2 separate regions of the Homo sapiens genome follow, and region 2 is linked to region 1. The links come from fine-mapping of genetic effects on gene expression. Tissue or cell type: whole blood. Region 1 holds a variant in brackets; the other region holds the start of a gene. All regions are shown on one strand. Distances are between the middles of the regions.

Region 1 (8,100 bases):
CTGCTTCTGCTTCCAGCGTGCCTTCAAGTCCTTCGATGATGTCTGGAGGCTCTGGGAGGTGAGGTGTCCAGCTAGGGATCATCAGGCTGGGCTCCACCCATCAGGCAGAGTGGAAGCTGCAAGTCTTCCTTGCCTCCCCCTTTCTTCCTGGCTTGGATGGAGTTCAGTATCTCGGGGTTTTGTTAGGTCAGCAACCCTGCTCCCACCTTGCTGGAGGAAGCTGGAGCATCACTTTGTCCATATGTTCATTTAACACAAAGGCCCCACTGACTGTGCCTTCTGCTAGCAGTTGACACAGGAGGGCCCTATGGCCTGTGCAGTGGGAGCCTGGGCCTGCAGCTCCACTTCCCCGCTGCCCTGCCCAGGTGGCCTCCCCACGCTTTCACTTCCCCAGCTGTCCCCCCAACCCTGGCCTTCCCCTTCCCCAGAGTGCTGCTCCTGTGGAACTCTCTCACAGAAGGTGGGTCCCTAAGGACACCTGTAGTCCTGTGACCACAATCCTCAGGGCCATCAGCAGATGAACCCTCTGAGGAATGCCACCCCCACCCATCAATGCCCTGCCCATGGCCACCGCTGCCTGCAGTGTCCAGCCCAACCATCCACCTGGCATGTAGGGCCCCACAGATCTATTCCCACCTGCCTCTTGGCTGGCTGGTCTCCATGCCCAAGTCCATGACCACACCCAGGCCTTTGGTGACATCCTTGGGTCATTTAATTCCCATCAACCCTTGCTTGCCAAAACCCCACTCAAATTCGACAGTTTCCTAGTGTCTTCCCACCCCTCATTGCCTCCCTCCCCTTCCTCTATCTAATGAATTCCCTGAAGCCTCTATCTCTGAAACCCCCAGGAGACAGCACAATGCCTAGAACCAGGAGTACCTGTGAGCACATGCCTGAGTGAGTGGATGAGTGAGTGAGTGAATGAAGGAATGATTGAATGAGCAAGTCAGCAGCAAGGCCCAGGAATGGCTGACTCCAGGCACGTGGTTGGTGGGTACCTCACCATCCTCAGGGCATCTGCAGTCTCAGACCACAGGGCCCAGACTGAGACGTCCTGACCCACAGGTTCTGCTGACGGGGAAGCCCTGCAGGAACTTCCAGGTGCTGGTGGCCTACAGCATGCTGCAGATGGTGCGGGAGCAGGTGCTGCAGGAAAGCATGGGCGGGGATGACATCCTCCTGGTGAGAGCACCCTCGGGCAAGCTACCACCCCTGCTCCTGGAGGCCCTGACACCCCACCCCACCCCAGCTGAAAGACCGGGGTTCATGGGGTGCTGGGCACCAGTGCCACCTTTTCCCCCCAGACAGAAAGGGCAATGAGATCTAAGGTACGGATTACCGTGCCAAGGGCTTTTAATAGAGCTTGTTTAAGCCTCACCACAAGCTTGACACAGGGAGGCTATAACCATCATCATCACCCCTAGTTAACACATGAGGAAATGGAGGCCTTGAACACTCCCTAACTATTAAGCTCTACCATCTCGCAGTTAACCCTGTGGCCCTAGGATATTGCTGAAACAGAAGGACCTAGAGTTTTCCACCATTTTAAAAAAGCTACTGAAGTCTTTGTTGGAAGAAACAAATCTTAGGTGACACCCTAATTATAAACCAAGTCCTCCTTCAAAGCCCCTAAGACACTTGGTGGAGCCCCAGGACTCCTAGAGCCTAACATGAAAGCTAACATTTACCATTGCCCCAAAATATCAAATTTTAGGCATTGAGCCAAGCAGGCTGGGGAGAGGTCAGGTGGTCCCCAGCGACTGCTGTGAGCAGCATCCTTCTTCCCTGGGTGCTGCAGGCAGCTGCATGTGCCCAAGAGTGCTGGGAGATGTTTGCCCCAGCCCCACCCACAACTGCTCCCACACTCCCATGCAGGCCTGCAACAACCTCATCGACCTTGATGCTGATGAGCTGATCTCTGCCGCCTGCGTGGTTTATGCTGAGCTCATCCAGAAGGATGTAAGTTGCCCCAATGATGTGTCCTCCTCCTCCTCTTCCTCCTCCTCCTCTTCCTCCTCCTCCTCCTCTTCCTCCTCCTCCTCCTCCTCCTCTTCTTCCTCCTCCTCCTCTTCTTCCTCCTCCTCTTCTTCTTCCTCCTCCTCTTCTTCCTCCTCCTCTTCCTCCTCCTCCTCTTCCTCCTCGTACTCCTCCTCTTCTTCCTTCTCCTCCTCCTCTTCTTCCTCCTCCTCCTCCTCCTCATCAGAGCCTATCCTGATCTCCCAAACGCAGCCCATGGCAGGTGCATTCAACTTCAGAGACACAGACTGTGCCACGTTCTCTACCACTGACCCATGCATGTTGCTCCTCATGGTCTTCTCGTTGTTTGCACATGTAGCTCCTTCCTCCCTGAGCAGGCTGTACTACTTGAGAGCAGGGCCCTCATCCCCCATTCCCTGTGTCCATCCCAGTGGGTCTGGGCACCCAGAGGCTCAGGAGAATGTCGCTGCTTAGAAGAACCGAAGAATGAAAGGGACAGACCAATGTCTGTGCACCTCCCACCTGCCTCCTCCCTAGGTTCCTCAGACATTAAAGGATTTCTTCCTCTGAGGACACCAAAGCCCGCAGTGGACTGATGCCTTCGATGGGCAGGATGAAGGCCAGGGGCACTGGAGTGAGGGAGTAGATAAAACAGCTGCAATATAAACAGTCCTCTGGAATAATGGTTTGTGGTGGATGCTATGTCTTTGACCTTAGGGGCTGGGACGCACATGAGGGCTGAGACAGGGTCGTACGATAGGAAGAGAGGCTGGCTGGCTGAGAGACACATTCTGAGACTAGGGAGGGTGCTTGCTGGAAGAGACTGGGTCAGTGGCTCCTCCTTGATGGAGGGTTTTCCAAGGCTGCGGTGGATCCATATCTGGATACAAATGGTTAGAGTAGAACCAGCTCTGAAAGGCTTCCAGACCCCTGTGGAGGACAAAACTGAGCACATTTAATAAGGATTAGTTCATCTGGACTTAGGTCCTGAGAGGAAGGCTGGTCCTGGGGCTCTGCCCCCACCCCCACTGCTCCCCTGAGTCCTGTCACATCAATCACACAATTAAGTCATTTTTTCCAGAGATTTCCTGCTAGTCTGTGGAAGGGGCTGGCCTGGAAGAACTATCTGATGAGCAGGCAATTCCCTTCCTGGTTTCAAAGCCTCCCTCATAATTGTGCCTTCATTTATCAGCCTGCAAATGTGTCCTCAAGCTACATTTTATTTTCCAGTCTTGATCAATCTTTCTTGAGAATGCACTCTTTGCCCTTGGCCAGGCAGTCAGTTGCTCTGTGAGGAAAAGGTGCATCACACCTGCTCCCCCAGGCTGTGCCACAGCCCTGAGCCCCTGTCCAGCCTGCCCCATGCTCTAGCTGGCCCCTCTGAGGGAAGACATGTAGATGGGCCAGAAAGGCTGAAACTGCAGAAGGGTTGGGGCTGGCTGGGTGCCCCCAGAGCTGCTCAGCAACACACATACATACACACATACACACACACACGAATGCACACACATACACACTGCCCTGCCCAGTGACTACAAGTTTTCAGGAGGGCTGACATTACACATGGGCAGGAGGGATCCCTTGCTTTTGCTGTGAACTGGTCCTTAGAGGTAAGGCATGGCCATCCCTCTCACTCTTCAGCCAACTGTCCCTCCCTCTGCTCCCATCCTGGCACTCTTAGTGACCATCACTCCAAAGCCATTATGTCCCCAATGAGTGCTTGGTCTCCTTCCCCTCAGGCGACAGTCTCCCATCCAGGACCAGCTCTGAGTCTCTTAGCTGCTGTATCTTTGCTGGAAGGTTGAGGGGGAATGCTGAAGAATGAGGGCCTGTCCCCCCAGCAACACCTTCTCTGCATGGCTAAAGAGCTCATGTTTGCTGGGCAGGGAGGCACATGGGTCAATTCATATACTACACTTCTCCTTTGCTTTTATGTTCCTAAGGCAGTTTATTTAAATAAGTGTTCCCGCATGAAAGACAGTTCTCCAAGGATGAAACTGTGTTTGCATTTTGCCAGAGAGGCAGAGAACAAGAGTAAAAGACATCTTGCTGAGCTAGTTTTGGCCTTGGGAAGAGAACAATCAATAGAAACATCAGATGAACATTTTCTAATGCTTCTTTTAGACTGGTGACTTCAGATGGCCGATTATTTTTGGTTGGGACCTACACACAATGCCAAACATCTATTTCAAAACAAACATTTAAGAACTCATCTTCTAGACCACTTGCTGTCAAATCTGTTGTTAAAAGCACTGGAGCCCCTTTATTACACAGTCCTTCCCAGGAGCCCAGCGGATGAAGTTTGGGTGCAGATCCCAGAGCCCTCTCCCCCGACCACCCCTCTCAAGCCCCCCTCCTTGAACCTCACATCATTTCCTGTGTTATCTGCAAGGAGCCTCTTGTCTACTAGGGTGCATATTTGAAAACCTGTTAGGTCTTAAGGACGAGGTGGATTCAATCTTGACACCAAATTGATCCAGATTCAGATAAATCCCAGGTGATGGAGTGATGAAAGTAA[C/T]AATCTTGGAAGAGTGGAGCTTCTCTCAGCTCATCTGCAGTACTCCCAGCCCAGCAGACTGTAGATTAGGATCTTCCCACCATGCTGCTATGCAGGTCCTTAAAAATAACACTGGGCTGTATAATTCATTCATTTATTCCCCCTTCTCTGGCTCACTTAGTTTATCATTTATACAGCCCAGTGTTGTTTTTCTCTAGTAGGGTCCATTCTGGAGATAGAACTACAGGAAGCATTGAAATCCTAGAGCCTAAGTTTGTGTTATGACAGTCTAGTTTATTTCAGCATGCATTTATTCAGTACTGTCTTAGACCATTTGGACTGCTCTAATGATGGCAGTGGCAGCCCATCTGGAGCAGCCACTGCCATGATGCCAGCTGCAGTGGGGGAGGCGCAGTGAGGGCTGCATGCTCCATGGAGCCAGTGGGAGCCAGAAACAGGCAGGAGCCCCGCCCCCTTCCAAGTTGGAGGGGTGGGAGCCCCACCCTCCCTGGCACAGCTGCAGCCACCCTGCCATGGCTGTGGACCCAGGCATCTCTGCACTCTTGGGGGCCCTTGAAACCCCCATGCCCTCACAGGCTCAGAACTGCCTGCTCCCACTGCCTGGCCTCTCCCCACTCCTGGTGCCCACTCTGATTTCGGAGCAAAGCTGTGGCTGAGACCAGGTGCTGTCACAACCCGGCCAGGTGTGCTCACACCTGGGGCAGCACTTACACACCAGCCCCATGCCTTCTTGGCCCCCCTCTGGACTTTGGGCACCGACAAGCATGGAAGAGAGGCTGAGGGGGTGGGTGCTAAGGATGGCTCGGCATGGGCCTTCAGGCACCCCTCATCATGAACAGCCTGGGCACCGTGGATGGCAGGTTAATGACAGCAGGAGGCAGGCAGATCCTGGGTGGAAAGGGGCAGATCCTGGTGAACCCCACCTTCAGGCCAGGGACAGTCTGAGGACTAGGGGCCAGGCTGCCAGTTCCACAGACTGGAGTGACAACCTATGGGGCTTTTTCTGGGTCTGCCCATGGCCACCCATGGACAAATCAGCATGCACTTCCTCCCCTCTGAAGCCCATAAAAATCCCCAGACTCAGCCAGCCTCAGGCAGACTACCGGATGACCTGTCTGTGGAGAGGAGCTACTCAGGGCGGGTCTCCTCCGAGCTGTTCTGTTGCTCAATAAAGCAACTCTTTGCCTTGCTCACCCTCCACTTGTCCACATACCTCATTCTTCCTGGATGTGGGACAAAACTTGAGACCCACCGAATGGCAGGGTTGAAAGAGCTATAACACAAAGAGGGCTGAAACCCACCCCTTGCTTGCCATGTTGCAGGTGACAGGAAGGAGAGAAGAGAGGAGAGAAGAGCTATAGCCTTTTGGGGATCCCAGACCTAGGAGCTCCCCAAGCCAGGGCTGTGACATCGTCTTTGGGGCTCTGTGGTTCTTGGTGTCTCCAAGCTTCCATGCACCGCTGCGTTCCCTTGTGCCAGCCATGGATGCTGTTTGTGGTACTCCTGGTCCAGCTGCAGCCAGCACCCATACCAGCATCTGGAGCTGCCCCTCCCACCACAGCTGGCATGCTTGGCTGTCTGTGTGCAGTGGCCAGACCCCACACTCATTCGTTCACACACACTTCAACACTCCATGTCTGGCTCTCCCTTGGCAAGTGTGGGCTCCAGGCCAATAGTGCGAGCCGAATGCCTGCCAGGCTGAGTGGGCAAACAAGCCCAGTAGGCCCGAGCAAAACTCAGGCAAAGGCGTCACTGTCCACACAGGTTTCAAGCTGGAAAGGAATACCTCAAGAATTCCATGACAATAACACAATAATGTCAGTGATGATGGCGGTGATGGTGATGGTGATGTCGGCGACGTCAGTGATGGTGGTAGTAATGTCAGTGATGGTGGTGAAGCTAATTATATGGCGGTGTTGGTGGCAGAGGTGTGATGTCATTTATGATGGTGGAGGTGGTAGTGATGGTGACATCAGTGGCAGAGGTGATATAGAATCTGGTGGTGGTAATGATGTCATCACTGGTGGTGGTGATGATAGTGCTGACTTTTCATTCTGCCAACAAAAACTGACTGTCTCTAATGGTACTCCTTAAATAGTGCCAGAGGAAAAGATGAGATTCAAGGAAGGGACTGAAGGGGATTGCAGTGGGGAGGGCTCTGATATTGATGATGGTGTTGGTGGTGAGGGCAATCATGGTGGAGATGAAAACAGTGACTAATTCATTCTGAAAAAACTAGTGCCCAGCACACTTCCAATGAGCAAGGCCTAGACATAATATCTTTAAATGAATCACCGTGGCCATGAGCATAAAGAAAATGGAAGCAGCCAGGCCCCATCCAAGCTTTCCAAAACTTGGTCCTGAGCCAGATATGAAAGCTTGGATTGGATTGGCTGCATTTCTTCCAAGCTCTCACCCTCACCTCTCTTTCACTCTTCTTCTAAGCCTCTTCCCTGGAGAATTCATTCATTTATTCCTTCTTCTCTGGCTACATTGAATGACCCCAAGGCCACTTTTTGTTCCTGGAGTTAGGATAATAGCTCTCTACCCACTAACAACTGCACAGAGGCACCGTGGATAAAACTCCAAGTTCTCTGGGCCCCAGGGTCTGTGTTACCCCCCTCAGAGAGGAAGAAAGAAGGTGGGCTTTTGCACCTACCCTCAGGCTTGCCAGCAGAACCGAGTCCTGGCCTGAAGCCACCAGACCTTTGGTCAGTGGGGAGGAAGGGATACTCCCTCCTTTCAGGAGGAAGAACATAGCTACTAGGAAGGGCCTCCACTGCCCAGGACCCAACCCCAAAGGACAGCTGGTGGGCTGGAGCTTCAGGAGGTCACGAACAAGGGCACGTGACCCCTACCCTCACAATTATACAGAAGCTGTACTAATTGGGTAATTAATATGTTCCACGCCTTGTGCTAAGCACTCGCATGCTTTATCTAACAGAATCAGAATTCTGATTCTGATTTCACCCTCATGACTGAATTCAAACTCAGAAACAGGTGCAGTCATTACCCTCTCATTACCAGCGAGGAACCTGAGGCACTGGGTTACACAGCTAGTGATTTGCCAAGTCCGGATGTGAATGCTGATGGGCGAACCCCAGGGCCCCACTGTTATGCCATGGTATTGGCTCTTGGGCAGCTTCCGTTTTCACCTCTTTCCCTGCCCACAGCCTCACTTGGCGTCTGCCATCCTCCCGCAGCCCACACTGAGTCTCCTGTCTGGTCCTCTGCAGAGCAGGCCCTCATCTCACAGGCCACCCCACCCTTGGCAGCTGAAGCCCCACCGATGGGCCGAGATGGTCCAGGGCTGGATGACAGGGGTGGTGTGTGCAGGAAGCTCTGTCCTACTTCCCTCGTCCCTCTCTATGCCTTCGATTACCCCAGTAAGTGTGGGAGGGCCCAGATGCAGCCATGTTTACTGCATCTTGTTTTGAAACAAAGCTCTGAACATTCCTTGTGCATTCCTTCTCCAGGATGGGGAGTGGGCTGGGGGTCTGGGGTTGCAGGAAGTCAGTCTGCAGGGGTGAGTGTGGGGACCCAAGATGGGGCTGGCAGGTCCCGCATGGAAGCAGCAGCAGCAAAGCCTGGGCAGCTGGGGTGGG
Region 2 (8,100 bases), 38 kb after region 1:
CACAAGTCAAGAGGAAAGAAGGAAAATAGTGGCCACATGTCTGGCTCTGTGCTGGGGACTTTTCATAATCCTCTCATTCCATCCTCTCAAATATGCCACAAGAAAGGTATGATTACCCCCAGGTCACAGACGGGACTCTGAAGCTCTGAGAGCTTAAAAAGCTTCCCCGGGGAGTGGCTGGGCCAGGCCAGGTCCCTAGCTCAAGTCATGGTGTGGACCCCCAGGTCTCCATCTCAGCAGGGATGGCTGGCAGGAGCGCAGTCCTGGCCAGGGGAGTCTGTGCAGAGGCCCAGGCTATGTTCAGAGCAGAGTTTATTCAAATAGAGCCTAACAGGAAACTTGGCTCCTCTGACTCACTCTGATTCGACCTTATTAAGAAAAAAAGAGAGAGGAGCAGGAGCCAGCATCGGGTAAGGTTTCACGCCAAGAGCTGGCTCTGAGGCCCGCTGAGTGGAATGGCATGTGCCCTGATCCCCCCACATCCAAAGCCTTGAGGCAGCCCCTGCCCTGCTGTCCGAGTCAAGGCGAGGGGTCCTGCCTTCACGTTAGGGCAACTGAGTTCCCTTCCTCACAGCCATCCTCTGTCCTCCCTCCACTCCTCTTCCCTTCCCTCCCTGCCTAGGGGTACCCTGAGGCCTGTTTCCATTTCTCCCCCTCCTCTGCTGCAGCAGCTGCCCATCTGGCTGGCGGGAGGGCCCTACAGGACCCCAGGGATTCCAAGCAGCTGAGGCCAACACTGCAGGGGGCAAGCAGGAGGGAGGGAAGGCTTAACCCTCCAGGTCCCGGCCCTCAGTAAGCCCTGCCTCAGCATCTTGCTTGGTGTCAGTCACACCAGTGGCTCTTTGGAGGAATCTTGTCTGGAGTCTGAGATGGAAACCCCATGCTGGGGAGCTGAGGTGTCAGCGTTGACAAGTTGCTGGCCAGGAGGTATTGGAAGCCCCCTACCTCTGGGCTGGATTCTGGGCATTTAAAGGGTAGAGACATGCTGGAGTCCAAGCCTCAGTCCTGAAGAACAGTGCAATGGGTGAACAAATGCTGCCTGGCAAGGATGGGGTTGGGAGGTCTATAGTTCCCAAAGAATGTCCACTCTAGTTGCCTCCTCTCTAGGTGGGCTCCAGGCATTTCCAAAATAAAGAATATACAGGAGCCAAATTAAGGACAGGTCCTTCATACCTTGTTTATAAGCCCAAGAGGGCAATTTCTGCCCTTCGGTTCCCAGGAACACGGTTGGAGAAGGCAGCCCAGGGGAGGCCAGAAGAGCAGTATTTGGAGTGTGATTTCTTGGATGCCAAAGCGTTCAAACTTCTGGGACCCCCTCCTATCCCTGCCATTCCCAGAAGGAACAGAGAATCTCCCAAAGCACTCTCAGGAGCCATCTGGCCTAATCTTCCATTGGTAAGCCGTGGCACCTGGATCAGATAGAGTAAGGGACTAAGCCACACAGCAACAGGACCAGGCCAGGTCTCCGGAACCCCCTTCTGTTGTTCAATGCTTACTGGCTTCTCTGCCTCACAGTGACCCCTGTCCCATATCAAAGACAGCCCCCAGTTTCATTTTATCCATGTGTACACTCAAGTTATTCCCAGGCTATGCAGAGCCAAGAGATGTAGGACAGAAACCATACGTGATGTCTGGGAAGTTGATCTCTCCCAGGATCTCACAAGTGCTTTTCAGCTCAGGGATACACCCCACTCTTCAGACTGGGAAAGTAAGCCCCTGAGGTGTGCCACGAGGGAAAAGGTGCAGCTCCAGTGCCTCTCTTCGCAGGCCCAAGAGCTGCGGTGCACCTGGGACCTGGAATTAGAGAGTGGTCCCTGTTCAGCATCTCCCCGAGGAGGCCCACCAACAAAGAGGGTGTGTCTTTTTTTTTTTTTTCTTCCTATTGAGGGTGTGGGATAATGGTGGAAGGAACATGCAAAGAGGGTGTGTCTTAATTAGCACTGGCTTTAGGGAACAAGGAAAAGGGAGAACCCGGGAGTACGGGAAGGAGGCTGGGGCAGACAGGAGTCAGAGGCCCATTCCAGCCCAAACGAGAAGCCAGTGAGCAAGGTGGAGACCAGGGATGCTGTGACCAAAGCAGAGAGGAATGGGCGGGGTGGTGCTGACACCCCAGCCCCGTTCTGCCTGCCAGAGCCCCACTTACCAGGCCCGAGTCCCCAGAGGTCCCCTCCTACTCCCTGCTCGATTCCCTTCCTCAGAGGCAGGTCTGTGGCTTGGCTGGGAACTCCAGGGACTGAGGGAGCACTGCAGCTGTGGGACCGGCGCATAGCTAAAAGCCGGCGGGCCATAGGGCCCCGCGGAGGAGGCCCCAGCAGGCGGACCAGGAGGCCGAAGCCTCCCGACGCTCCCAGCCTGTTGCTTATTCATTCAGAGTGGGAAAGCGCCAGCCGAGCGGCCAGCCAGTGCGGGGCTGGCCATGTAAGGCCCACAGGCGGTCCTGCCCGCCCGGTGCCCTGCGGAGAGCCTCGTGCAGCCCTGGGCACCGCCCCTGCCCTGCCCTGACCCCTTGGCCTTGAAATGCTGTCATCGGAGGAGCCGTCCCGCTCGGGACAAGGCCAGCATGGACAAAGCTAGAGCTGGGGCAAGCAAGGAGCCTTCCTGTCCTCGAGGCCGTGGGAAGAGAAGCACGCCCAGGGGGCCACTCCTGAGAGCCTCTCTGTCCACCAGGCCTCTGCAGAGGGGTCACCATGGCTCTGGCCCGAGGCAGCCGGCAGCTGGGGGCCCTGGTGTGGGGCGCCTGCCTGTGCGTGCTGGTGCACGGGCAGCAGGCGCAGCCCGGGCAGGGCTCGGACCCCGCCCGCTGGCGGCAGCTGATCCAGTGGGAGAACAACGGGCAGGTGTACAGCTTGCTCAACTCGGGCTCAGAGTACGTGCCGGCCGGACCTCAGCGCTCCGAGAGTAGCTCCCGGGTGCTGCTGGCCGGCGCGCCCCAGGCCCAGCAGCGGCGCAGCCACGGGAGCCCCCGGCGTCGGCAGGCGCCGTCCCTGCCCCTGCCGGGGCGCGTGGGCTCGGACACCGTGCGCGGCCAGGCGCGGCACCCATTCGGCTTTGGCCAGGTGCCCGACAACTGGCGCGAGGTGGCCGTCGGGGACAGCACGGGCATGGCCCGGGCCCGCACCTCCGTCTCCCAGCAACGGCACGGGGGCTCCGCCTCCTCGGTCTCGGCTTCGGCCTTCGCCAGCACCTACCGCCAGCAGCCCTCCTACCCGCAGCAGTTCCCCTACCCGCAGGCGCCCTTCGTCAGCCAGTACGAGAACTACGACCCCGCGTCGCGGACCTACGACCAGGGTTTCGTGTACTACCGGCCCGCGGGCGGCGGCGTGGGCGCGGGGGCGGCGGCCGTGGCCTCGGCGGGGGTCATCTACCCCTACCAGCCCCGGGCGCGCTACGAGGAGTACGGCGGCGGCGAAGAGCTGCCCGAGTACCCGCCTCAGGGCTTCTACCCGGCCCCCGAGAGGCCCTACGTGCCGCCGCCGCCGCCGCCCCCCGACGGCCTGGACCGCCGCTACTCGCACAGTCTGTACAGCGAGGGCACCCCCGGCTTCGAGCAGGCCTACCCTGACCCCGGTCCCGAGGCGGCGCAGGCCCATGGCGGAGACCCACGCCTGGGCTGGTACCCGCCCTACGCCAACCCGCCGCCCGAGGCGTACGGGCCGCCGCGCGCGCTGGAGCCGCCCTACCTGCCGGTGCGCAGCTCCGACACGCCCCCGCCGGGTGGGGAGCGGAACGGCGCGCAGCAGGGCCGCCTCAGCGTGGGCAGCGTGTACCGGCCCAACCAGAACGGCCGCGGTGAGTACGGCCCCGGCGCCCCTCCGGCCGCGCGTACCCCTGGCCACTGGAAACTGCTCCGGGCCCCCCGGGCCCCTCCTTAGAACTTCCTGGAGGCCTCCCCGGAGCTGCTAAGCACGGAGCAGCGCCCCCTCCCGACTTCCCCCGACCCAGCCAACAGCACCCCCCTGGCATCTCACCTCCCAGCTTAACCCGCACCCAGGCATCATCAGTGCCAGGGGTTGGCCAGGCAGGTGTGGGCTCTGATCCTGGCTTTGGTGGAGGGACTAGCCGAGCTTTGGGAGGAGGCTCGCCTTCTGCACTTGGCTTGGGTCATCTGAGGACAAAAGGAAGGAGCCCCTCATCCACCTTCTCCCTCATTTCAATGAGGGCATCTCCTTCCCCCCTTAGAGATGTTCTATGCCAGCTCACAGGGTGAGGCAAGGAGCATCAGAAACCTGAGTCTTCAGGGCCAGAAAGGCCTTAAGGGATGCCCCTGGAGGTGTGGCAGGCTGCCCATTACTGGGCATGTGTGAGGTTGGCTTGAGTGCGCAGGAGGTTAGAGGGGAGCGTGTGCTCCAGGCAGGAGTCCGGACTTCCTCAGGGGAGTCTGCAAGGCTGGGGCAAGAGAGACCAGTCAGGCACTGGCCTGGGTGCAGAATTTCAGGGGCTACCAAAAAACACAGTAGTTGAGATGAGTAATATTGAGATGTATTTTTTTAAGTCAAAATTAATGCAAAAAAAAAAAAAAAAAAAAAAAACCTGTGATAAAGGAAATATCCAGATTTTAAATAGAGTCAGTAATAGTGGTATGCCGAGCCATATTGGAGCCTGAGGCTAACTGAAAAATCAGCAACACGGATCCTGTCTTTATTTGATATTTGGATATTTTGTTCATTACAGATAGTTTTGCATTAATTTTTATTTTAAAAACTATTGTGTTAAATATTACTTATCTCCGTTACTGAGTTTTTTTGGCACCCCCTAAAATTTTGCACCCCGAGGAAAAAAAAAAAAAAACACCTCACTGGCCTCATTCCCCTCACCCTAGTCCTGGCCCTGGCGGAGAGCCCCAGCTGTGGACAGGACTCCCTCTGGCTTTTCAGGGGGTGAACATACGTCCTCCTCTTGGGAAGGCCCAAGCCCTCTGCACATGAGGACACAGTGGAAAGGCAGCTTCCACACATGCTGTTAGCAGACAGGGCTACTGTGACAAGGGCTGACTGGTGGGTGTGGCCAGTGCTGGACGGCCATCAGCCATTCTCTGCTGTCCTAGAATCCCCCTCCCTGCTACCCTCTCCATACAGGCAGCTTTTGGGCCAAGGTTTTCTACTCAGTCCCCAATACTTATGCAGTCCAACTCTGCCTTGCCTCTTTCAAGCTGTCGTCAGTTTCCTCTACCCATAATTCTCTGCTCCCCATTGAGGTTGCTGTGCCTGGCCCACCAAGTAAGGGCTGACTGAGCCCTCCAGTGCCTCAGAGTATAGGTGCTAGTGCCCCAGCCTCCTCCTCAGCCTCTGTCAGCAGAGGGATGATGCTTTGTCTCCAGCCAAGCTGACCTCAGTGAGGGGCTGCTGCTCATGGGGTGCCTGTCTCCCTGGGTACTGCTGGAGGCCAAGACTAGGGGAGAGGAGCGTCTCCACTGGGAACACTCACTCTATCACATCCAAGGTGTCGCTTTTGAGTTGTGTGCTGAATCCCACTTTAAGAACCTGCAGGAGCTCAGGAAAAATCAGATGGCAGGTCCTTCTGTGGTGTGATGAAGGATGCATCCACCTGCTCTGGTCCTTACCAGGTACTTGCAGCATCCCTGCAGAAGGGCGCATTATAGCCATGCATCAGCTGCTCTAGGGCCCCTTGGAGAATAGGATGTTTTACCTAGAGGGTGCTAAACTTTTGCAGTGGCTTTTCTTAGAATGCAAGACCTCAGCATGAGGCTCAGCCTGATGGGCCCCACCTCTGGGCAGAGAAAACTGAGCTCTCAAATGCCACAATATTGGCAGAGGCATGCCTGGGACTTGGCATCTGGGCACCAAGTCAGTGGGTCTTCTAGGGCCTGTCTTTGGGCTGTTAGTTCTTAAGGAAGCCAGTTGATTGAGAGGGGAATGGGACAGGGCAAGGCCATGTCTGAAGTGGGGGTGCTTGGTGCTTAGCAGACCTCTGGCCACTACCCTGAGCCCCACAGTTCATTTTGGGTCAAAAACATTTCTCCCCTGAAGGTAGCATCCTAGGTGCCAAGCTGAGTGTACTCACATGCATCAAGTCCAGGCCCTTCCCTGGGGCAGTCTACCAGGAGGGGCATCTCAGTGCTGTGATTAGGCAAGCATTGGTGGGGCCAGGGGCTTTGTGAGCCCAGAGGAGGGCCCTCCCTGTCAGGGGCTAGGGCTCAGGGAGACTTCCACAGGAAGCAATGTCTAAGCATTGCTGCAAGGGATGGTCATCAGCACCATCCAGGTGCCCCTTCCCCTAATCATTGAGGGTGTGGGGTGGGAGTGTGTTTTTTGCTGGGGAGGGGATTGCAGGCTAGTTTAGGGCTCACAAAGAGGCCAGAGAGGGAGCAGTAGTCTCTCCCATCATTGGTTCCTCCCTCCCCACCCTGCTAGGCCAGACCGTGGAAAATCCCAGCCCAGGGAAGGCCAAGCCTTGTGCTTGAGATCAGACCCCCAGGCCTGGTGTGGGAGCCCAAGGCGGATTCTCCGAGACTGACTTCATTCCTCCTGGCCACACACCCAGGGGTCTGAGGCTGGGCGCTGGCAGCCTGTGAGTGTGTGTGGGCGTGGACGTGTCCTCACAACACCAAGCACATGTGAGCACCACCCACCTCCCTCCATGGGTGGGTGGTTTCCAAGCGCCTGTCCTGAGCCCAGTTTCTTCCTCGGGTACCTGTGCCCTCTTCCTTCCTACCCTGGGCACTGAGACTGCCCAAGGCTTCCTGCAGTACCATTCTCTCCAACTCTGAAACATGAAACTGAAAAGAAACTAGAGGAAACAGAGGCCCAGAGAGGGTCACATACTTTGCCTGGCTCTCATAGCAAATCCTTGAAGAGAGGCCTGGAGGGTGGCCAGCCACTTCCCAGGCCCAGCTGGGTCTCCTGCACTGTGTCGGCTCCCTCGATGTGACCACTCCTGCTATTACCAACCAGGCCCTCCTCTCCTGGGATCCTCGCCTCAGCTCCTGCCTCCCTGGAGTTTCAGCTTGTCTGAGCTGGGGGTCTTAGTGCCACCTAAGAAGCCCCACAGCCCCAGAAGACCAAAGCTCCCCTCCCAAGGCCTTACCCTCGCACCCCCCGCCTGACTCACCGGCTCTGGCAATCCTGTGAAAGGAACATGGAACAGGCAGCCCTGGGCATCCTCCCAGGGCATCTTGGATGGCTGTGCTAGCCTTGCCTGACGTGTGTCCTCTATCCCTGACTTCACATGGCCAATCAGAGGCCAGGAGAGAACCGCAGCTGCCTCCTCCCTGGTCCCTTGCTCCCAGTCTCTCCCTCTTCAGTCTGTCCTGCATGTGGGGCAGATAAACCCCTGCAGTCTGACCAGGTTACTCCTCTGCTCAAGAAGATTCTGTAGCTCCTCAGGGCCTTTAGGACAAAATCTAGTGTCTCAGCCCAGCACTCCAGAGTTAGAGGCACCTCCTTCCTGTCCTTTCTTCCTCCTTTTCTCAAGCCTCCACAGCCCCCATGGGACCATGCTGCTCGTGGGCCTAGATGTTACACCTCCCTAGACACATGCAAGGGTGTTTCTAGGGTACCTCCTTCTCTGTCCAGCCTCCTGCACCCAAGAGGCCAGACCTGTCTGGACCCTCAGTCCCTGAGAGCAGCCCTGGCTGCCTGCTACCACCTCTCCTGCCTGAGCCCCTAGCTCACCTGGGCCTGCTCCACCCCACCTCCACAGGCTGCCTGCCCACCTCTGCCCTCCAGGTCACTCGCCTTCCCCTGCAGAGTTTGGAGTAGATGCAGGGAAGGACCAAAGCAGGCTTCACCCAACAAGCTTCCAGAGTTAGAGCCCAGAGGCAGGGATAATAATACCAACTTGGCCATTTGCTGAAGACCACTTCCTGGGCTTACTGACTTCAATGTGCAGTTTCATTCATCCTCACAACCTCCTAATGAGGTGCAGATTATGGTCCTCCTGGTGTAGATGAGAAAACAGGCCTAGGGAGGTGGCACAGAAGGGTACAGCCGAGCTTGAATTCAAACTGAACCTGTGCTCTCTGCATCACAGTGAGATGACCCAGGAGGATATCATGTTCAGCCTGCGGGCAGGGTGGGGCAGGGCATGAGCATGGACCCCTCTGCCAGCTTTGCCTCTGTGGTCCTCACCTCCCACATCTGC

What was found. PIP is the estimated chance that this variant, and not a neighbour inherited with it, causes the effect.
Region 2: it holds the start of LOXL1-AS1, and the variant in region 1 is fine-mapped to the expression of LOXL1-AS1 in whole blood (TOPMed, PIP above 0.99).

The regions. Positions count from the first base shown.
Region 1 is chr15:73,886,555-73,894,654 of GRCh38, forward strand. TBC1D21 (TBC1 domain family member 21) reads left to right here. Exons shown (of 11, transcript NM_153356.3): 8 at 1-58; 9 at 1,066-1,182; 10 at 1,876-1,959; 11 at 2,515-2,660. The coding sequence ends at 2,547. Among named protein-coding and RNA genes, the nearest start is that of TBC1D21, 17 kb to the left of the region's middle. RefSeq lists a silencer at 559-817. The variant C/T (reference allele first, on the strand shown) is at 4,496.
Region 2 is chr15:73,924,097-73,932,196 of GRCh38, forward strand. LOXL1-AS1 (LOXL1 antisense RNA 1) reads right to left here and starts at 4,152. Exons shown (of 3, transcript NR_040069.1): 1 at 3,969-4,152. LOXL1 (lysyl oxidase like 1) reads left to right here and starts at 2,366. Exons shown (of 7, transcript NM_005576.4): 1 at 2,366-3,789. The coding sequence starts at 2,688. RefSeq lists enhancers at 2,872-3,705, 3,706-4,539 and silencers at 3,614-3,733, 3,824-3,873.